3 linked regions of the Homo sapiens genome follow. The protein of the gene in region 1 purifies or fractionates together with the protein of each later gene. This does not show direct contact. Each region holds a gene or a part of one and is shown in the gene's direction. Other genes may lie near its edges.

What was found.
Region 2: the proteins of PRR14 (region 1) and MAN2B2 purify together in Homo sapiens (affinity purification with mass spectrometry; 2 studies listed by BioGRID and IntAct, with this or other methods). This does not show direct contact.
Region 3: the proteins of PRR14 (region 1) and PPP2R5E purify together in Homo sapiens (affinity purification with mass spectrometry; 2 studies listed by BioGRID and IntAct, with this or other methods). This does not show direct contact.

The regions. Positions count from the first base shown.
Region 1 is NC_000016.10:30,646,404-30,654,151, forward strand, and holds the start of PRR14 (proline-rich protein 14), read left to right. Parts: upstream 1-4,556; 5' UTR 4,557-4,724; intron 4,725-5,192; 5' UTR 5,193-5,242; coding exon 5,243-5,265; intron 5,266-5,392; coding exon 5,393-5,561; intron 5,562-6,317; coding exon 6,318-6,439; intron 6,440-6,510; coding exon 6,511-6,700; intron 6,701-6,961; coding exon 6,962-7,005; intron 7,006-7,748. UniProt on the Homo sapiens protein: Functions in tethering peripheral heterochromatin to the nuclear lamina during interphase, possibly through the interaction with heterochromatin protein CBX5/HP1 alpha. Might play a role in reattaching heterochromatin to the nuclear lamina at mitotic exit.
Region 2 is NC_000004.12:6,591,896-6,599,188, forward strand, and holds part of MAN2B2 (epididymis-specific alpha-mannosidase isoform 1 precursor), read left to right. Parts: intron 1-1,277; coding exon 1,278-1,455; intron 1,456-2,638; coding exon 2,639-2,837; intron 2,838-5,217; coding exon 5,218-5,408; intron 5,409-6,302; coding exon 6,303-6,459; intron 6,460-7,293.
Region 3 is NC_000014.9:63,393,362-63,400,654, reverse strand, and holds part of PPP2R5E (serine/threonine-protein phosphatase 2A 56 kDa regulatory subunit epsilon isoform), read left to right. Parts: intron 1-3,938; coding exon 3,939-4,069; intron 4,070-5,369; coding exon 5,370-5,429; intron 5,430-6,726; coding exon 6,727-6,835; intron 6,836-7,293. UniProt on the Homo sapiens protein: The B regulatory subunit might modulate substrate selectivity and catalytic activity, and might also direct the localization of the catalytic enzyme to a particular subcellular compartment.

The DNA.
Region 1 (7,748 bases):
AACCCAGGGGGTCAGGGCTGCAGTGAGCCAAGATCCAGCCACTGCACTGCAGCCTGGGTAACAGAGCAAGATCCTGTGTCAAACAACAACAGCAACAACAACAACAACAACAACAACAACAAAATAAGGTCAGATTCAGAGGAAGTGAAAGGTTCAAGATTTGAAAATATCTTTGGTGGGGTGGGGGGGAGGTGGGGAGACAAAATTCTGCCCACTACAGATAATAAGAAGTAAACAGAATTCTAAAAAAAAAAATGCAAGAAGAGCAGATATTAGGTTGGTGCAAAAGTAATTGCGGTTTTGCCATTACTTTTAATGACAAAAACCACAGTTATTTTTGCACCAACCTAATACAAGGAGCAGCCACAGCTCCTCTCAGGCGGAGACAGAGCATACAAGAAAAAGGCTCCTTCTGGCCAGGCGCGGTGGCTCATGCCTGTAACCCCAGCACTTTGGGAGGCCATAGCGGGTGGATCATTTGAGGTCAGGAGTTTGAGACCAGCCTGGTCAACATGGTGAAACCCCATCTCTACTAAAAATACAAAAATTAGACAGGCATGGTGGCATGTGCCCGTAATCCCAGCTACTTGGGAGGCTAAGGCAGAATCGCTTGAGCCTGGGAGGCGGAGGTTGTGGTGAGCCACCACACTCCAGTCTGGGTGACAGAGTGAGACCCTGTCGAAAGAAAGAAAGAGAGAGAGAGAGAAGGAAGGAAGGAAGGAAGGAAGGAAGGAAGGAAGGAAGGAAGGAAGGAAGGAAAAAGAAAGAAGGAAGGAAGGAAGGAAAGGAAGGAAGGAAGGAAGGAAAGAAAGAAAGAGAAAGAAAGAAAGAAAGAAAGAAAGAAAGAAAGAAAGAAAGAAAGAAAGAAAGAAAGAAAGAAAGAAAGAAAAGAAAGAAAGAAAGAAAGACAGACCTCCTTCCTTCCTGAGATCCACAAGTTTTTGGAGAGGGCACAGAAGTACAGAAGTCGCTGAAGTACAGTAGTTGCTGGAGTGTCAGTCTGGTGGAACTTGCTGGAAATCCACCCTCTTGGGTGCCAGGGAAAGCTGTTCATGGGCAGGTGTCTCCACAGAGGAACTCCACTGCAAAACCATCCAGAGGGCACCTGGGGGAGCTGCTGACCCTGGGGTTCTGCTGGCCACCCTGCCCTGCAGAAGCAGGGAGCTGGGAACCCACTTGTGCTGCAGGAGCCTCCCAGGAGGGTTTGCTGAACTGGGAAGCAAAACTCTTTCTTCCTGCAATGTCTCTCCAGCCATCTATTGACAAAACTTAGCATGATGCTGGCTGGTAAAAAAAATTTAAATATATATATATATTTAAAGGGTCCAGGCCAGGCGCGGTGGCTCACGCCTGTAATCCCAACACTTGGGGAGGCCGAGGTGGGCGGATCACGAGGTCAGGAGATCGAGACCATCCTGGCTAACACAGTGAAACCCCATCTCTACTAAAAATACAAAAAATTAGCCGGGCGTGGTGGCGGACACCTATAGTCCCAGCTACTTGGGAGGCTGAGGTGGGAGGATCACTTGAGCCCAGGAGGTCAAGGCTACAGTGAGCCATGATCACACCACTGCACTCCAGCCTGGGTGACAGACCAAGACCTTGTCTAAGAAAAGAAAAAAGAAAGATGGGCCGCCCAGAGTCTAAACGGACCCTGAGTTTCTGAATAATGACACACTGAAGTGCACCCACGGCCACACCAGCAGCCCCACTGGAGGCTGTGTGGGGCCCTCTTGCTAATGCATCAGCATACACTGTGGTACACCCCACAGTGTGTCCACCACCTGTGTAGGCAGTGGGCAAAGTAAAGTTGTTGAAATGGGAAGTCACAAAAAGAGCAGAGGTGAGACCGCAAGATCATGAGGGCTCACATTTGCTGGCCTGGGCTAAGGGCCAAGACTGCCACAGTCTACCTTAGACTTCCATTTGATGAACTCTAGCACCCCAAGTTAGGGTCACACTGGTGGGCTCTTCCTACCAAATACTCAGGTCCAGGACTTTTCTTTGGACTACATCTTTTACCCTTGGTGTCATTGACTTCAAGAGACCTAGAGAATCAAAACTCAGATTAGGGCCAGGTGTGGTGGCTCATGCCTATAATCCCAGCAATTTGGGAGGCCGAGGCGGGCAGATCACTTGAGGCCAGGAGTTCGAGACCAGCTTGGCCAACATGGCGAAACCCCGTCTCTACTAAAAATACAAAAAACTAGCCGGCCGTGGTGGTGAGCACCTGTCGTCCCAGATACTTGGGAGGCTGAGGCACGAGAATCGCTTGAACCCAGGAGGCGGAGGTTGTAGTGAGCTGAGATGGCGCCACTGCACTCCAGCCTGGGCGACAGAGCGTCTCAAAAACAAAAAACAAACAAACAAAAAATACCTAAAAACTCAGGTTAGGCCTGCTCTGCTTTTGAAAGTTTTTCCTGCCCTGGGGCCTGAAAAGCACCTGTGGGGTTTAGGTCTTAATTTGGCAAGGTTGAAAGAATCTCCAAGCACTCACAGCTGGATGAAACATCACTGTACCTCCTCAGGCACCCATACTGCCAGCCCTGATCCAGAGGGAGAGAAACACCTCTACGTGGAAGAACCACGGCGGCCTGCTCCCACCAGAAGTCTGAATGGGTTTCCAGAGGACCCAGCGGACCTCCTGTTACAGAGATGCTGTAGTCCTGCAAGAACGTCTCCCTGCATGAGTCCTTAGGGACGGAGCTGGGGAGCCTCCATTTCCCACATAAGCCCTTCTCGATTATGCTTTCCATATCATCCCTTGTTTGTTTGTCTGTTTTGAGACAGGGTCTCTGTCGCCCAGGCTAGAGTGCAGTGGCGCGATCATAGCCCACTGCAGCTGCGACCTCCCAGGCTCAAGAGAGCCTCCCACCTCAGCCTCCTGAGTAGCTGGGACTACAGGCGTGCGCCACCATGCTCGGCTCATTTTTTTGTATTTTTTTTTTTAGAGATGGGGTCTTGCCATGTTGGCCGGGCTGGTCTTGAACTCCTGGCCTCAAGTGATCCGCTATCTTCTGCCTCCCAAAGTGCTGGGATAACAGGTGTGAGCCACCACACCCGGCCCTGTTTTATCACTTTCATCACTCAATCCCCTGAGAATTATGACACCTAAACCAGGAAGCACCTCTGCACCTTATCTCGGACCCAGGATTCTAGGCTTCAGGGTCTCTCGTTCTGTTAAGAAAACAAAATAAGGACTCGTGCTGGGCGCTCACGCCTGTAATCCCAGCACTTTGGGACGCTGAGGCGGGAGGACTACTTGAGCCCAGGTGTTCAAGATCAGCCTGGGCAACATAGCGAGATCCTGCCTCAAATTAAAAAAAAAAAATTAAAAAAGAAAAGAAGTACTGGTTTGGACCAGGGAATCTGGGGAAGGAGAACTAGTGCAGACATGGGCTTTGGTTAAGCGGTCAGGGCACCTTCATAGCGCTGCAAGAAGCCACTACATGCCCACTTCCTCCCCACCAACAGCCCAGCTTCCAGTAAAGGGTCCATGACGCAGCTCCTCCAAGCAGCAGCGTCCCACCCTGATCCCTTACTCCTCAGGACTATTTACACCTCCCCCATCCTGCGGGCCCCACTTGAGACAGTGGTTCCTGAGAGCCGGGCCCCACTAGCAAGCCAAGGTATATTCTTGGCCTCCTGCAAAGATGCCCCTGTCCTATAGACCTCTGCGCGGACCGTGGGCACCCCCACTTCTCCAGGAAGAAGTAGGTGGGCAACACTCAGGGGAAGTCAAGCTTAGCGCCCCCAGTCTCCTCCCCACTTCGGCTCGGTCCCATCTCTCCAGGACAAGGCGCCAGCAACGGAGCCACAGGCCGCACCAGCCCGTCTTTGATCCCGGGTGTTCGGACTCAGGGCCTCCACCACCCCCTCCTAAACTCGGACCCTGGGCCGTGGGAACCCAGTTTAGGAACCCAGGAAGATGCCGGAACCTTCCTCAAACGAGGCCACTCTAGGAAATTGGGAATTTCACATATCGTTAGCACTCAGTCGACGTTTATTGGCCTAAGAACGAAAGAACCGGAAGATGCCCTTAAAAAGCGTGGCGGCACTCTAGCTTCAATCGGTTGCCTCAACATATCAAGAAACCTGGCATTGTATATGGCCCTCAAAAGATGACGCCACCCGGTCCACCACGGTTCAACGAGGACTAAGACATCTGCCCTCAACCATCATGGCGGCGCCACTCAGTTTGGCTTCCTGCCCCTAGGGATGATGGCCGCCAGGTGGCTTCACTTAGTTTCTCACCACCCCGGAAGACGGGGACCGGCGATTGGGCGGTGTCCAGAGGCTCCGAGAAGAAGGCCATCGGCGGTTGGGCAGCGTTGGGTAAGCTTGGTTTTTAAAGGAGCCGGAGGTGGGAGCTGCGGAAGACCCGGGATCCACGGGAGGCGGCGGTGAGCAGCCCTTGGGGGAGGGCAAGGAGTGGCTGGAGAGAGGGCGGGAGTGGGGGCGGGGAAGGAAACTTCTGAACCATCTGGTCCCGGGCCGGGGGAGACCGCTGGGCGGGGACGCGAGGAGGGAAGGGGCGTCTGTGGGCGGGACCTCCCGGGATTGGAGTGAAGAGGGTATCTGCTTGACAGTGGATCCCTGGGGATCTACGCTGAGTTCGGAGATGCTCCAGCTCGGGCCGCCCCTGTCTGAGCGGAGCTTTGCGGCGCTGAAGCTTACAGGGGAAGGAAAAGCCTCGCCCGGCGTCTGATTGGCGGAACCGCGCTGTAGGATTCTTTCCTCAGGGATCCAGTCTAGGGGATCTGGTGGGATGGAGGGTCGTCGATGTATGGAGTATTGCTTTGGAGTCCTCGGCCACTCGCTGGGAGAGGAGGAGGATCGCAGAGGGATCCAGCGGAAATAGCCTCCCAGGACCGGGATCCCCGTGGATCCCGGGGGATCTCGGGGCATAATCTGCAGGGACAAAGGCCTCGGGAGGCTCGGGCCGCGGGAGAACTGGGGCCGCTGCATTCTGGGTTCTGGCGGCAGGTGCCAGGCAGGGCGCGAGTGATCCGCTGATCGAGGCGGTGGCAGCGGGAGGACACCCGCTCCGGGCGACCGGCCGGGGGCGCCCTTTCGCGCCCCAGGGCTGCGGCCGCTGGGCTACGGGGAGCCGCGGGCGGACCATGAAGGGCGGAGCCCCAGGGAAGGGGCCGGCCCTCACCCCCCGCTCCCCCGCTCCCCCCTTACCCCAGGCCGCAGCCTGGGATTCCCCAGGGACCCCCCCGGAGCCGCCGCGTCTCCCATGGACTTGCCCGGGGACTCCAGGTGAGAGCGTACCCGGGCGGCCCGCCTGTCTTGACCCCGGGAGATGGGGATCCTGGCGACCGTGCCGGGAAACTACAGAGCCAGCGACAGGTTCGGGCGACCGTCCTCTGCTTCTTTCACCCTCCAGCCCGCCTGGCCAGCCGCGTCTGTGCCGCCAGCCTCTGACTCGAGCATTATGGGGAGCCAGGAGCCCGAAACGGCCGAGGCTGCAGCTCCCGGGGGCCCCTTCTCCCCTGGAAAAGGCCTCTCGGCGGGTCCTGGCCGTGGTGCTAGAAGATGTCATGGCTGTTCACATGGTGAGCCCCCTGAACCAAGAGACTCTCTATTCCCCCATGACTTTCCTCACTACCAAACTCGGGCCAGATCCCTACTGAGGATAACTGAAGTCCAAATCCATCATTGTTGTACTCAGCCCTCAGGCAGCCTCCCTCATGGTAGAGTCCTGCTTGGCTCCCACTTACTCCAACCTAGAATTGGGCAGTGCCCATTCCACCCACCAACGATTTTGGGCTGGAACCACATCCCTGTAACTCTGAGAAACTCTTCTGCTTCTTTTTTTCTATCTTTTTTTTTTTTTTAGAGACAGGGTCTTGCTATGTTGCACAAGCTGGTCTCAAACTGGCATCAAGCGATCTTCCCATCTCTGCCTCCCAAAGTATTGGGATTACAGGCGTGAGCCACGGCGCTGGGCCGAAACTCTTCTGCTTTCTTCCCAGCCCAGCCTCCTTAGGAAGCAGGCTGAGGTCTTTGACTCCACTGCACAGATAAGAAAAACTGGCCCAAAAAAGGCAGTGACCCACCCTAGCTCACCCTGTCTTTTTCATTTCTCTAAACAGCGTGGATGAGATTACCCAGGTCCTACACCTGCAGTTTAGGACTCTTAATATCTGGCCCCTAATTCAGTCCAATTCATCTCTTCTCTTGGGATCCGAGTGAATTCTAGCCCCAATCTCTGTTATGTTTGTGGCTCAGGGCACTGTGAGGCACAGGGAAACCTTGTCCCGTCCAGCCTCATTCTATCACCTTGCTCTTGACACCTCTTTCTCTTCCAGGTCCCCGTGGTGCCCTCAAAGCAGACCTCCATACCACAGCACCACAGCTACCATCAGGATCCTGTCCACAGGCAGCCGCCTGCCTCGCCACCCCGGCAGGCCGGGTGGTCCTCGCAGGCCAGGTGAGCATGGCAGGATGGGGGTAAGCCGAGGGCCCAGCTGAGCCATTTTAATCTTCCTGTTCCCTCGCTAGGCCTCCCGACCCTCTGTGTTTGTGTCGCGAGCCCTTGAGCCGCATCCACCGGACCTCTTCCACCCTGAGGCGGCGATCAAGGACAACCCCTGGCCCAGAGGAGGGCCCTTCACAAAAGGTGGACCGGGCCCCCCAGCCCACCCTGGTGGTGATGCTGGAAGACATCGCCAGTCCTAGACCCCCCGCTGAGGTATGGGAACTGAGGGTACGGATGTCAAGGGTTCTGCTGGGTTCCAGCAGGGATAGAAGGGTAGGAGGCCTGAGTCTTAGGTGGGTTTTTCTTGGGGTGAGGAGGATGGCATTTTAGGCGGCAGACACTGCCTGAGCAAAGACTATATAAAAACGTCTTTGGCGTGAACCCAAGCAGCTATCCGGGAACTGAAAGAGTCAGGATGTGGGGCACTAAGGGGGCTTTCCTGCCTCCCCACAAACATCCCCTATTTTTATCCAGGGCTTCATTGATGAGACCCCCAACTTCATCATCCCAGCACAAAGGTGAGAGGGCTGGAGTAGGGATTATCAAAGGATCCAGGCAACAGCCATCATCCAGGTAGCCAGAGCTAGGGGCATCGGGACTGACTGATCCAATCCTTCCTTGTGGCATCTTAAAAAGCCTTAAGGGGCCGGGCACGCCCATGCCTAATGCCAGCACTTTAGGAGGCCAAGGCAGGAGAATCGCTTGAGCCCAGGAGTTTGAGGCCAGCCTGGGCAACCACATCACTGTGACCATATCTCTACAAAACGTTTTGTTTATTTATTTGTTTGTTTTTGAGATGGAGTTTTTGCTCTGTTGCCCAGGCTGGAGTGCAATGGTGCGATCTCAGCTCACTGCAACCTCTGCCTCCTGGGTTCAAGTGATTCTCCTGCCTCAGCCTCCCGAGTAGCTGGGATTACAGGCATCCGCCACAATGCCCGGCTAGTTTTTGTATGTTTAGTAGAGACGAGGTTTCACCACGTTGGCCAGGCTCTTGAACTCCTGACCTCAGGTGATCCACCCACCTCGGCCTCCCAAAGTGCTGGGATTACAGGCGAGAGCCACCATGCTCAGACAAGATATTGTTTTAAATTAGTTGGATGTGGTGGTCCATGCATGTAGTTCTAGCCACTTGGGAGGCTGAGGTGGGAGGACTGCCTGAGCCTGGGAGTTCAAGGCTGCAGTGAGCTGAGATTGTGCCCCTGCACTCCAGCCTGGGCCACAGAGCAAGGCTCTGTCTCAAAAAAAAAAAAAAAGAAGAAGC
Region 2 (7,293 bases), on another chromosome or scaffold:
CCTCACAGACCCTCGCAGCAGCCCACTGACGGAGATGCTGTGAGTGCCCCATCTTACAGAAGGAAAAACTGAGGCACAGCAGCCCGCCCCAGGTCCCACAGCTGGCAGACGTGGTGGAGCCAGCGTTGGATTCAGGCCACCAGCTCTGCAGCCTCCACGTGGTGGCAGCAGTCAGCCTTGGTCTCTGTGCAGTCAGACGGCCCTGGGTTCAAATCCGCACTCTGCCCTGGCCAGGTGCTTAGCCTCTCTTGGAAGAGGAAAGACAACAGGCAAGGCAGAGGGGGTGAAGAACACTGGCCGGGATTAATTAGCGGTCACTGCCATTTGTCAGCCCTCCTTTGTGCCCAGCACTGTTTCTAGCTCCTTTCCATAAATGACTTTCATTTAATCCTCACAACAACCTGCTCCACATTCTACCAGGGAGCTTGGTGAGGCTAGAGGTGGCAGTGCTGGTGGCTGATGACTGTGATCCCAATGCTTTGGGAGGCTGAGGTGGGAGGATTGCTTGAGCCCAGGAATTCGAGACCAGCCTGGGCCACAGAGCAAGACCTCGTCTCTACATAAAATTCAAAAACAAGTCGAGCATGGTGGTAGTCCCAGCTCCTGGGGAGGCTGAGGCGATGGCTTGAGCCCGGGAGTTCGAGGCTGCAGTGAGCCGTGATCATATCACTGCACTCCAGCCTGATCAACAGAGCAAGACCCTGTCTGTAAAAGAAACAGAGGTGGGAATGCTGGAAGGGGCTGCCCAGGTTGGAGAGCTCCAGACAAGGGTTCCATGGCTGCTACCCCGAGGCTGCACAGTGTGAGCAAGGAAGGCACTTAACTGGGGGTTCTCCACACCCCCAGCCTAAGGCAAACAGAGAAAGATGTTAAATACTGAGCCTGTCTTTATTTAAAACTCTGACATTTTGTTCCTCATGGGTTTTTTGCATTAATTTTCATTTTTTAAAGTACTGCATTAAAATATCATTTATCTCAACTACTAAGAATTGAGGCACCCCCATAAATTTTGTGCCCTAGGCCAGGGCCTCACTTGCCTCACCAAGCCCCCGGCCTCTTTGGGGTCCTGAGACCCGGGGTCTGATGGGCGAGAAGTTGGCCTGCGTGAATGAGCAAACAAATCTGTGACCCACCGTCGGTCATGGAGTGGGAGAATTCAGTCTCAGGGTGAAATGATGTGCCAAGGTCCCAAGGCTGGGAGAACATGGCACTTGGGTGTGAGCCCTGGCTGTCCACAGAGTTCGTGTCTTCTGCCCTAACCTTCTGCCCTCGCACAGGTCAGGATTTTACTGGAATGGCGTGGCTGTCTTCCCCAAGCCTCCCCAAGATGGGGTGTACCCCAACATGAGTGAGCCTGTCACCCCAGCCAACATCAACCTCTATGCCGAGGCCCTGGTGGCCAACGTGAAGCAGAGGGCCGCCTGGTTCCGGACACCGCACGTCCTCTGGCCCTGGGTAAGGCAGAGTCCCAGGTGCTGTGCCCTCAACACAGCCCAAGGAGCACTATGCAAGCCCTGGTCCCTGCACCCAGGGCCACCCTATCCAGACCCAGCTAGGCAGCCATGCTCAGCCCAGTGGCTCCATCCTCCTTCCCTGCAGACCCCTGGGCCTCTCCCACTCTACCAGCCCCTCCCCCACCTGGAAAAGCACCCTCACCCACGCTGGCCTCTCCAGCTCCCACTCAGCTCTCTTCCCTGCCTGGGCCGGGCTGGCTCCCGGCTCGGGCACTGCGTGCCTTAGAGTCCATTGAGCTTCAGTTGCCTCCGCTGTAAAATGGGGATGGTGGCAGCAGGCTTCATAGGCTTGGTGAGAGGTGAAGCGTTCCCGGGAAGCCAGTGCCCGGCACGTCGTGGCCATCGTCACAGCTAACCTTTAGTGAGCACCTGCTGTGTGCTGGGCACTGCCCCGTGGGATATATTTGTCTCAGCCATCTAATTTGCACCACTGGGCCTAGGAAGCAGGCTGGTATCCATTTCACAGTTGAGGAAACCAAGGCCCAGAGAGGTTAAGGAATTTTCCTGAGGCCACAGAGTTCCTTAGGGTGGCTAGGAAGGGGTGGAATTTGTGTTCAGACCCAGTCAGGCGGGCCCCAGAGCCTGCCTTCTTCATCCGTGACTGCCCTTGTGAAGGCAAGCTTAAGATCAGTAACTCAGTCATGGTTATTATTGCTGTTATTAATCATTATATTAATTATAATAATTAATAATCATTAATTATAATGATTTGGATAAGTAGTAACACTGATGGGCCTTAAGAGATGCCCAGGGCCGGGCGCTGTGGCTCACACCTATAATCCCAGCACTTTGGGAGGCCAAGGCAGGCAGATCACCTGAGGTCAGGAGTTCGGGACCAGCCTGGCCAACATGGTAAAACCCTGTCTCTACTAAAAATATAAAAATTAGCCAGGTGTGGTGGCGCCTGCAGCCTCAGGGAGGCTGAGGCAGAAGAATCACTTGAACCCGGGAGGCGGAGGTTGCATGAGCCGAGATCAAGCCACTGCTATGGGAGCTGGTTTGGGGCCCCTGTTGGCCGCCTTGGAGACTGGGAGGGCAGCTGGTGGAGGGCAGCGATCGGCCCACCCCCACTGGGCGAGCGCCCTGCTCCCACGGCACAGGATGTTGCTCCCATGTCCCTGCAGGGATGTGACAAGCAGTTCTTCAATGCCTCGGTGCAGTTTGCCAACATGGACCCGCTGCTGGACCACATCAACAGCCATGCTGCCGAGCTCGGTGTCTCGGTGCAGTATGCCACGCTGGGCGACTACTTCCGTGCCCTGCACGCTCTCAATGTCACCTGGCGTGTCCGCGACCACCACGACTTCCTGCCCTATTCCACAGGTACAGGCTTCCAGGGGCTGGGGTGGTAGTTTGGTGGCAGGGAGGGTATAGTCCACGTACCCTCTGCCCACTTCAGTGGCTGCTCGGCACTGCTCTCCAAGCCCTGGAGGGGTTCCAGGCAGGTTCTGTGTGGGGCGCAGGGGCAGAGACTGACCCTCTCTGCTCACTCCACCTGGACGTCCTGGCCACCACATGCACCACCTGATTCCCACAGGGTTCAGCCTCTCACCATTGCCCACCACATGCAGTTTCCTGCCTCTGGCCTTTGCACAGGTGGTGCCTCCTGCTGGGAGCGGCCTCCATCACCTTCTCTTCCTGCATGAGTTCCACATAAACCTCTTCTACGAGCCCTTTCCTGATGCTGAGGCTGACTCGGGCTTCCTTTCACTGCACAGTCATTACTGGGCACCTCCTGTGCATCATGCCTGTGTCCTCAGGCCAGAACTGGGTTGGCCACCAGCAGCACAGCCTGAGAGCTAAGAGGGCTGGCTGTGAGTAAGCCTCTACTCGCTGCCTGTGTGCAAGTCATGAAACCACCCTGTCTCCAAAGGGGGACATTTGTGGTGCCTCGTGCATAGATAGGGTTGCTGTGAAAATTCAATGAGAAGAAGTGCTCTCAGCCTCCTGCCCAGCACAGAGGCAGGGCTCAGCAGATGTCCTAGACCTCTGGGTGCTGCTGTAACAGTATACCACAGAATGGGTCATTGATTAGGAAACGAAGTTTCTTTGGCTCACAGATGTAGAGGCCGGGAAGTCCAAGGTGGAGGGCTGGTGTCTAGAGAGGGCCTTCTTTCTGCATCACCCATGGCTGAAGGCTGAGTGCAAAAGAACAGCCGGACAAGGGGGTTGAACTTGCTTTTCTAACAATCCCAGTCCCATGACAATGACATTAATCTGTTCACGAGGGCAGAGCCTTCATGGCCTAATCTCCTCTTAAGCATCCCACCTCTTAATACAGTCACAATGGCAATTAAATTTTAACATGGGTTTTGGAGGGGCATTCAAACCATAACATTTCCCTTCCAAAGAGATGCCACAGATGAACTCCAGCTGCAGGGCTCATTCTGGCCTGGGCACTGCCTTGACTCACCCATGACCTGGCTTAGTCCTGCCTCTCTGGGCCCCAGCCTCTGGGTCTGCATGGTGACCAGTGGGGCTGCATAGTCCCCGGCTCCTGCTGTTGACACCACATTGGAGGCAGGTGGGGCTGCACACACGGGTTGGGGGATGTCCGTGGATGTGGGTGTGGTTATAGTCAAGGCAGGAGGAGATATGTTAATGTGGGCATGGCTAATGGTGAGGTGGGTGGGGTAGTGACTGTGGGTGTGGCCACATCTAGCAGGTAGGGATATACCCGAGTCAAGTTGGGTGTGGCTCTGTCCAGGTGGGCGTGGTGTCCAGGTGGGCGTGGTATCCAGGTGGGCGTGGTATCCAGGCGGGTGTGGGTGGGCGTGGCGTCCAGGTGGGCGTGGTATCCAGGCGGGCATGGTATCGTGATGACCACTGAGGATGTGGAGCCCCTGCCAGACTGAATGGAATCGGGCCTCACCACCCACTCTCAACATGGCTGCAAAGCTGTGGAGGACCCCATCTGACCCACAGGGTGTGGCCTGTCCCCTGGGCCATGTGACCACCCCTCCCAGTCTGGTTCAGGACCAGTGGGGGAAGAACAGGGAATCAAGGCAAATCTGGGCACATCCCAGACGCCGAGGAGCAGGAAAGCAAAAGCAATAGGAAGCTCCCTTCTGAGACAGACAGCCACTCCCTGGGAGGGTTCAGCCCTCCTGCCTCCTGCATGGGCCCTGGGCATCCTCATCCTCTCTGTCTTGCATCAGGACACTGGCTCCCTGGGGTCTCTGAGCCCTTGCTGCCTCCTACCATCCATCCTCCCTGGACGCCCAGAGAATCCCTGCTGAAACGCATGCCTGTCCTGGCCTCCCCATGCCCACGTCACACATGAAGGCCTCTGTGCAGTCTAGGCCCTTCTCAGTGGGGTCCTGCCCACCTGGCTCCTCCTCTTCCCCTCTGGGTCTCCCAGGCCCTTTGCTCACACAGCTGTTCTGTGTTTCCTAGGCACCCTGGGCTTGCCTCCGATCAGGATCCTTCAGCACCCCACCCCACCTGCCCCAGTGCAGCCTGTCTCTCCCACCCTGCCCAAGGCCCATCCAGGGTTTTCTGGGCAGTTCCTAGTCTGGCTATGGGAGGAGGCCTGAGTTGGGAGCCGTAAGCCCTGGGCTCGCTGCCTGCCCGGCCTGCCTCCTTGGGTGACCCTGGCAGAGGCTGCCTCTGCAGCCCCAGCTTCTCAGCTCTTCCAGGGCTGGAGCTTAGCAGACTTCTGGGTCATGCCGTCTCAAGCTCACCATCTTCCCTTGTCTCCCAGAACCATTCCAGGCCTGGACGGGCTTCTACACGTCCCGCAGCTCACTGAAGGGGCTGGCCCGGCGAGCCAGCGCCTTGTTGTATGCCGGGGAGTCCATGTTCACACGCTACCTGTGGCCGGCCCCCCGTGGGCATCTGGACCCCACCTGGGCCCTGCAGCAGCTCCAGCAGCTTCGCTGGGCCGTCTCCGAGGTAACACCACATTTAGCCACAGTGGCAGGATTGGAACCTCCCATGCTGCGCACCTCCCCTCCCTTGTCCTAGCCAATCCTTCCAGCCCTGGGGCACTAGAGGCCCCACTTTACAGAGGGGAAACTGAGGTTCCCTTTGGTTACAAGGCCAGTGCATGGTGAACCCAGGCCAAGGCTGAGACCACAGCCTGATCCATCCAGCTGGTGGCCTCATTAAGCTTTGTAGCAGTTTAGCAAAAGGGATAAAGGACAAGGTGGAGTGGCATTTGTGTCCGACAGCCCTGCCTGCATCCATATCTCGGCTCAGCTGTGTGATGTCAGGCACATGATTCCCACACCCACCCAAGACCTAATTCCCTCCTGTACAATGAGAACAACGAGCTTGCCCAGGAGGACGGTGGGGCAATTGGATGTGCTGGTGTGCACAGCCTGCTTGGTGCAGTGGCTGCTGAATAGCCAGTTCATGAGTTTCCGTCTCCACCCATCCCCTACTGTACTGATGGGAAAACAGACCCAAGACAGCCTGTAACTTGTCCTCAGTCACCTATCCAAAAAAGGGTCACACCAGCCATGACACTGTAACAGTTCCCCAAAAGGAGCTGCTGGCAGAACATGTCATTATGTTGTGGGAGAAATGAGGTGACTTCAGGGTCCTTCAGAGCAGGGGGTCCAGAGATGGGGGACAATGAGTTCCCACAAGGGCAGGAAAAGTTGGGCGAGCTCCTCAGCTTCTCTTGGCCTCAGTTCCTCCTTCTGTAAAATGGCGGGGACTGCCCCCTTCTCCACTGGCACCTGGCAAGCCAGAATGAGAGCCAGCGCCTAGTAGGTGCCTTGTAGGTGCTTTGCAGAGTCAGGTCCTGATCCTGTTCTTCCTCCCCTCTGGGGGTTGCTGCAGGTCCAGCACCATGATGCCATCACTGGGACTGAGTCCCCCAAGGTGAGAGACATGTACGCAACGCACCTGGCCTCGGGGATGCTGGGCATGCGCAAGCTGATGGCCTCCATCGTCCTAGATGAGCTCCAGCCCCAGGCACCCATGGCGGCCAGCTCCGGTGAGCAGGGCCCTGCAGGGAGGCTGTGGCCCCTTTATGAAGGGAGAGCCTGAGGAGGTCAGGGGAGGGGCTCAACGACCCCAGCTTCAGACTCTGAGTCCACATCACCCATATCGCCCTTCCCCATGGTGAGAGCTCGGACAGGTGGCTTCAGTCCTCCCAGCCTCTGTTTGCTCATCCGTGCAATGAGGAAGGGTTGCTGATGTTACAAGAAGAGCCAGAAATAGCAGCTAACATGTTTTGAGCATTTACTAAGCTCAAAATACCCTTCATGCAGTATTGAATTTAATGCCTCACAAAATCTGTACAAAATAGGAATGGTTACTGTCCTCATTTTACAGCCGAGGAAACGGACTCAAGTTATATGCTAGCCCAGGGCCACTCGGGTAGGAAGGAGCAGAGCAGGGATTGAACCTGAACACGGTGCTGCCCAGCCTTGGCAGAGAGTACGCCGGTGTCCTCAGGGGCCCGGTCCCTTCCTGGCTCCTGGCACTCCCTCCCGAACTCCACTTGGCTGACATCACAGCAGGGCAGCCGTGGGACCAGCCTCTTTGACTGTGAGTTTTCCCACGTGTAGAGTGACTGATCACATGCCAGTGTGCCTGGGACTGAGGGGTTTCCAAACTGGGAAGATCCTGGACAAATGAAGACAGGTTGGCGGCCCTCCGCCCGCATGAGACTTTTGTGTGCATAGGCCGCCAGGTCCCACCCACAGCCTGCACCTGGTCATCTTGCACTTCCTTCTTGTTTTTTGTTTTTTGAGACAGGGTCTCGCTGTGTCACCTAGGCTGGAGTGCAGTGGTGCCAGTCATAGGTCACTGCTGCCTTAGACTC
Region 3 (7,293 bases), on another chromosome or scaffold:
CCTGTGGAAATGTATTAACTTGCCCATTACCTCCCCTGATGGGCTCCAAAATTGTTCAACAATGTGTATGTCCAGCAATGAGGACCATCGCTGGCACATAGAAAGAACTCAGTACGTATGTATTTATTGTATTGCTGAATGGGCAGAGAGCTGTAGTTAACAACATCTTCTGTTTGGATAGGCTGCTAGGAAAAGCATGTACTATTGAACCTGTGAGGAGCACTCATATCCCACTTCTAACTCCTCATTTCTTCATCGGTCAGCCTGGATGTCTCTTCCTTTAGAAGCCTTTGCTGATCACTCCACTTCTTCCAAATACAGTAGATGTGTCTGCTGTGTATTTATACAACATCCTGAACTACTTAACATGCTGTTTATTTACTTGTTTGTATTCCCCATTAGAATAGGCTCTGAGAAAGCAAAGACTGTATCTGTCTTGCTTATCATTGTATCCCTGACAGCTCGCCCACTGGCTGGCTTTTAATAAGCACACCATAAATATTTACTTGAAATACTCATTTTTAAAATGAACAGATGAATGAATGATAGATGGATGGTGGATGGCATTATGTAGCTAAAAATTGTGTCCTGTCTCTACCTATTTTTGAAGACCATCCTTTAGTTTGCGTTTCCTGCCATGTTTGAGGGGCCTTTTTTTGGTCCATAACTCTTGTCTTTTATTCAAATTAAAACACCGAACAAAAGCACATTCGATTATTGACCATGAGGTTTTTATTCTGCTGTCAGTGTCAACCTCATGTCTAAATCACCTGAGGTCAAACTTACATATATCTGGATAGCCTTTTTGATGACGATGGTAGTCTAATTTGTGTGTTATGTGCTCTTGAAATGTTTTGCTGTAAAGACACTAGAACTGAATTTTGCTTTATTGCAATGATGATGAATGTTAAAAAAAACAACTCAGTAACATTCAAACCAATTTCCAAGTTTGTTCTTCAGCCAGAGGAACTTGCACACTGACTTTTTGTAAAGGTAGCAGATTTATTGTGTTGTAATTCATACACCATAAAATTCACCATTTTAAAGTTTCCAATTTAGTGGTTTTTAGTATGTTTACAGAGTCATGCAACCATCACCACAGTATCATTGCAGGATGTTTTTATCATCCCTCAAAGAAATCCAGACCCACAGGAGGCTGAAGCAGGAGAATCGCTTGAACCCGGAAGGCGGAGGTTTCAGTAAGCCGAGATAGCGCCACTGCACTCCAGCCTAGTGACAGAGCAAGACTCTGTCTCAAAAAAAAAAAAAAAAAAAAAAAAAAAAAAAAGAAAGAAATCCAGACCTATTAGTAGCCACTCCCCATTCTACTTTCTGTCACTATGGATTTGCCTATTCTGCTTATTTCACATAAATGGAGTCATACATTGTATGGCCTTCTGTGTCTGGTTTCTTTTACTTACTTAGCATGATGTTTGAAAGATTCATTGATGTTGTAACATGTATCAGTTACTTTGTTCCTTTTTATGGCTGAATAATATTCCATGGCATCCCATTTTGTTTATCAGTTGACGGATATTTGGGTTGTTTCAGTTTTTAGCTATTATGAATATTGCTCCCATGAACATCTGTGTACAAGTTTTTGTGTGGACATGTGTTTTCGGTTCTGCTGGATATATACATGAAAGTGGAATCGCTTAGTCATATAGTAACTCTGTGGGAGATTTAAGGAACTGCCAAACTGTTTTCTGAAATAGCTGCACCATTTTACATTCTTACCAACAATGTATGAGGGTTCCAGTTTCTCCATATCCTCGCCAACACTTTTTATTATCCCTCTTTTTCATTATAGCCATCCAATGAGTATCTCTTTGTTGGTTGGGTTTTCTTTTCTTTTCTTTTTTTCTGAGATGGAGTCTTCCTCTGTTGCCTAGGCTGTAGTGCAGCAGCGCGATCTCGGCTCACTGCAAACTCCACCTCCCAGGTTCAAGCAATTCTTCTGCCTCAGCCTCCCGAATACCTGGGATTACAGGCATGTGCCAGCACGCCTGGCTAATTTTTGTATTTTTAGTGGAGACAGGATTTCACCATGTTGGCCAGGCTGATCTCAAACCCCTGACCTCGTGATCTACCCCCTCGGCCTCCAAAAGTGCTAGGATTACAGGCGTGAGCCAGGGTTTGCTTTTCTGTAATGATCAATAAAATAGAGCACTTTTCATGGTTTATTGACCATTCTTGTTGAAAATCAGTTGACCATAAATGTGAGGGCTTACTTTTGGGCTCTTAATTCTATTCCATTAATCTGTATGTCTGTCTTTATGCCAGTACCACACTGTCTTGGTATTTTGGACTAAGTTTTGAAATAGAGAAGTGTGAATCTTTCAAGTTTTGTTTCCCTCAAGAGTATTTTGGCTCTTCTGGTTCTCTTGCATTTCCATATGAATTTTAGGATCAACTTGTCAATGATACAAAAACAAAGCAGCTAGAACTTTTGATAGAGATTGAGTTGAATCTGTTGTGCTCACTGGCATTTGGCTGAAACTTTAGCTTGTTACCTCTTTTGGACTAGTTGCGTGGACCTCATTTTGAGCATGTAGATGTGATGTTATCAGGATTTGGTTATTAACTTTAGATTACAAATGTTTGGGAACTTAAACATGTTATTCACAGCCAGGCATGGTGGCTCACACCTCTAATCCCAGCACTTTGGGAGGCTGAGGTGGGTGGATCACCTGAGTTCTGGAGTTTGAGACTAGCCTGACCAATATGGTGAAACCCTGTCTCTGCTAAAAATACAAAAAATTAGCTGGGCACGGTGGTAGGTGCCTTTAGTCCCAGCTACTCAGGAGGCTGAGACAGGAGAATTGCTTGCTTGAACACAGGAGGCGGAGGTTGCAGTGAGCTGAGATCGTGCCACTGCACTCCAGCCTGGGCAACAGAGCAATACTCCATCTCAAAAAAAAAAAAAAAAAGTTATTCACATATAACATACAACAGAAATAATCAATGTTCACTTCGTTGACTATTTACAGAGTGAGCACACCTACATAACAAGAGTCTGGATCTAAAAAGGACCATTGCCAGTATCATTGAGACATTTTGATGTTTGTTTTGATTCAGGTTTTTTCATTTTCCTAGATGTTCTAGTAGAGCTGAAGGCTTATCCTTTTTTTTTTTTTTTTTTTTTTTTTTTTAAAGACCGAATCTTGCTCTATGGCCCAGGCTGGAGTGCAATGGCGCGATCGCAGCTCACTGTAACCTCTGCCTCCTGGGTTCAGGTGATTCTCCTGCCTCAGCCTTCTGAGTAGCTGGGATTACAGGTGCCCGCCACCACACCTGGCTAATTTTTGTATTTTTACTAGAGACGGGGTTTCACCATGTTGGCCAGGCTGGTCTTAAACTCCTGACCTCAGGTGATGCGCCTGCCTTGGCCTCCCCAGGTGCTGGGATTACAGGCATGAGTCACCACAGGCAGTCAGCTTATTTTAACTGCATATTTGGAATATCAGTAGGTAGCATAGTGCAGTGGTTGAGCTACGGACTTTTGGCCTCAACTGCTGGGGTTCAAATTCTAGCTTTACCACCTATTAGCTGTGAGACCGTGGGCACGTTACTTAACCCTATGTGCCCCAGTTTCCTCTTCTGTAAAAGGGGGACAAAACTATCTCATTGGGAGGATTAATATGTAGATTGCTTGGAAAATTGCCTGATGATCACAGTAAGTGCCATATGTGTATTAGCTATTATTCATATTATTACTTTTATTGTTGTTATTTTGTATTTGTATTTCTTTAGTGGAATATAAGCTCCTTGTCTGACTTGTTTATCATGATATGCCCAAAGACTAGCACTGTGCTTGGCACATAATAGATATTCAACACATTTTTTGAGGAAGGAAGAAGGGGATTTTAAATAATAGAATTCCTAAATCCTTTTCTGAAACCGCCTTTGACAGCTATAATGTCTTTCATTTACAACAGCTTCTGGAGCTATTTGACAGCGAAGACCCTCGGGAACGGGACTACTTAAAAACAGTCTTACACAGAATTTATGGCAAGTTTCTTGGTCTTAGAGCATTTATCCGAAAACAGATTAACAATATTTTTCTAAGGTAAGTGGAGTGTGATGGGGGAAGAAGGAGAAGCAAAGTTGGTGTTTTTATGAGTATTAAGTAAATCTCAAATATCTGAAAACGGTGTACTGACTTCTCTTTCTCCCTTTCTGCCTGCCTTCCTTCATTCTACTGACTCTCCTGCCTCTTCCTCTACCCCCTCCCCCTCCTCTCCTCCCCCATCTTCTCCTCTCCTCCCCCATCTTCTCCTCTCCTCCCCCATCTTCTCCTCCCACCCTCCTCTTCCTCCTCTTTTCCTCTTCCTCTCCCTCCTCCCCCCACTGCTTCTTCTCTATCCCTCCTCTCCCCCTACTTTCCCCCTCCTCTTCCCTCTCCCCTGCTTTTCTCCTCCCCCTTCTCCTCCTCCCCCATCTCCTCCTCCTCTCCTCTTTTCCTCTCCTCTCTCCTCCTCCTCCTCTATCCCCTGTCCTCCTCCTTTCTCCCTCCCTCTCCTCCTCTCCTCCCCGCTCTCCTCCTCTCCTGCCCCCTCCCCCTTCTCCTCTTTTCCTCCCTCTCCTCCTCTCTTCCCCCACCTCTCCCTCCCCCATCTTCCCCCTCCCCTCTCTTCCCCCCTTCTCCTCTCCTCCCCCGTCTCTTCCCTCCTTTTCTCCCCCTCCCCCTTCTCCTCCTCTTCTCCTCCCTGTCCTCCTCTCTTCCCCCACCTCTCCCTCCCCCATCTTCCCGCTCCCCTCCTCTCTTCCCCCCTTCTCCTCTCCTCCCCGACTCCTCTCTTCCCTCCTTTTCTCCCCCTCCCCCTCCTCCTCCTCTCCTCCTCCCTCTCCTCCTCTCTTCCCCCCATCTCTCCCCCGTCTCCTCCTCTCTTCCCCCCTCCTCCTCCCTTTTCCCTCTGCTCCTCCTCCCTTCCACCCTCTCCTCCCCCCTCTTCTCCCCTCTCTCCTCCGCTCTTCCCTCCTCTCCTCCCCCTCTCTCCCCATCTTCTCCTCCCTCTCCTCTCTTCCCCCATCTCTCCCCCATCTCCTCTCTTCCCCTCTCTCCTCCTCTCTTCCCTCCTCTCCTCCTCTCTTCCCTCCTCTCCTCCTCTCTTCCCTCCTCTCCTCCTCCTCTCTTCCCTCCTCTCCTCCTCCTCTCTTCCCCCCTCCTCTCCTCCTCCTCTCTTCCCCCCTCCTCCTCCTCCTTCTCTCTTCCCCCTTGTCCTCCCTCTCCTCCTCTCTTCCCCGCTCTCCTCCTCCTCCTCCTCTTCTCCTCCTCCTCCCCCTTCTCCTCCTCCTCCTCCTCTTTTTATCCCTTCCTTCTCCTCCTCCTCTCCTCCTTTCTCCTCCCTTTTCTCCTCTTCTCTCAGGTTTGTTTATGAAACAGAACACTTCAATGGTGTAGCTGAACTGCTGGAAATATTAGGAAGGTGAGCACGGTTTTTCTAATTGCTAATCTCAGATGAATATTATTTTAAAAATTAGGTTCAGGTGGCACCAAGAGATGCTCACCTAGTTCTCTTGCTGTATGTACATTGGGTCTCTCTCATTTGTGCCTATTAGCATATTTTCCAGCTGACTCTACAAGACACAATTTCCTGTTCCCCTTGTTCCACAAGTATGCATTGCCATTTCCACTGGAATGACTGAAAGAGCTGACAGTTCATTCATTACTAGAAAGATGGTACATCTAATTGTGGTCAGGCTAGTTACTCCAAAACATCTTATTCTCATTAGTTTTTAGGCTATCTGGTCCTTTGCCTTATCTGTTGAAAGCAAGTTTATAATAAATTGGAAAGATTGCCATTTTCAAAGGAGTTGTGTATCCAGGTATAGTCCTTGAACAGCTGCAGCCTGGAGTAGTGGAATGAATTGGAAAGAGCTGTGGTGTAAGTTTCTACACACAAGGGAGGATAATGTAGCTGGACAATATGATTACTTAATCTTTTCTCCTAATATGAAGAGAAAAAGAAGGTGGAGTCACATGGCTTTCTCTCAGTGATTTCCCTAGGCTGGGCAGAGGTTTCAGGAATGAGAAGGAATGATGTCTGGAAATGGAAAAGGTCATATTTAAGGCGGAAGCAAGCAAGGCGGGCCATTATTTGGAGAAGGAAAAGGGAGGGAAAATAAAGGGTTTTGATAAAGAGCTTTTGGAAACCATCTGACTAATTTTAGGAGCACAGGAGCCTTTGTTGGGTGACCAGAAGCAAATTTTCTTCTCTTAAATTTCCTTCCAACTTTTTGTATTCCTTGAAGTCATTAAGAAATCCTGGCTGGGTGTGGTGGCTCACGCCTATTATCCCAGCACTTTGGGAGGCCAAGGTGGGCAGATCATTTGCAGTTAAGAGTTCTAGACCAGTCTGGACAATATGGTGAAACTCCTTCTCTACTAAAAATACAAAAAAATTAGCCAGGCATGGTGGTGGGTGCCTGTAATCCCAGCTACTTGGGAGGCCTGAGGCATAGGAATAGCTTGAATCCCGGAGGCGAAGGTTGCAGTGAGCTGAGATTGGGCCACTGCACTCCAGCCTGGGCAATAGAGCAAGATGACTCTGTCTCAAAAAAAAAAAAAAAAAAAAAAAAAAGGAAATTCTGAATGCCACTGGGGTGGGTATTATGTTGTTTTGTACAAACAAACTGATTAAGTTTAATTAATATCACAAGAACAGTTTGTCTCAGTTCAACTTGTGGTAACATTGCTAATTTGTGTCTCTTTTTTCTCCCTAGTATTATCAATGGCTTTGCTTTACCTCTTAAGGCAGAACACAAACAGTTTCTGGTGAAAGTATTGATCCCTTTACACACTGTCAGGAGCTTATCACTCTTCCATGCACAGGTAGGAGGATTTTGTACAACTACTTTTAGAAGCAAAATAAAAAGTTTGCAAACTCGTTTTTTTGATATTGATATAACCTTCATTTTGTTTTTTTGGTTTTTGTTTTTTGAGACGGAGTCTTGCTCTGCCGCCCAGGCTGGAGTGCAGTGGGACAGTCTTGGCTCACTGCAGCCTCCACCTCCCGGGTTCAAGCAATTCTTCTGCCTCAGCCTCCCGAGTAGCTGTGACTACAAGCGCACGCCACCATGCCCAGCTAATTTTTGTATTTTTAGTAGAGACGGGGTTTTACCATGTTGGCCAAGATGGTCTGGGTCTTCTGACCTCATGATCCGCCCACCTTGGCCTCCCAAAGTGCTGGGATTACAGAGGTGTGAGCCACGGCGCCGGGCCTATCGCCTTCATTCCCAAAGGAAAGAGACTTACTTAAGTTTAAAATACTCCCCGAGGGAAATAAAAAT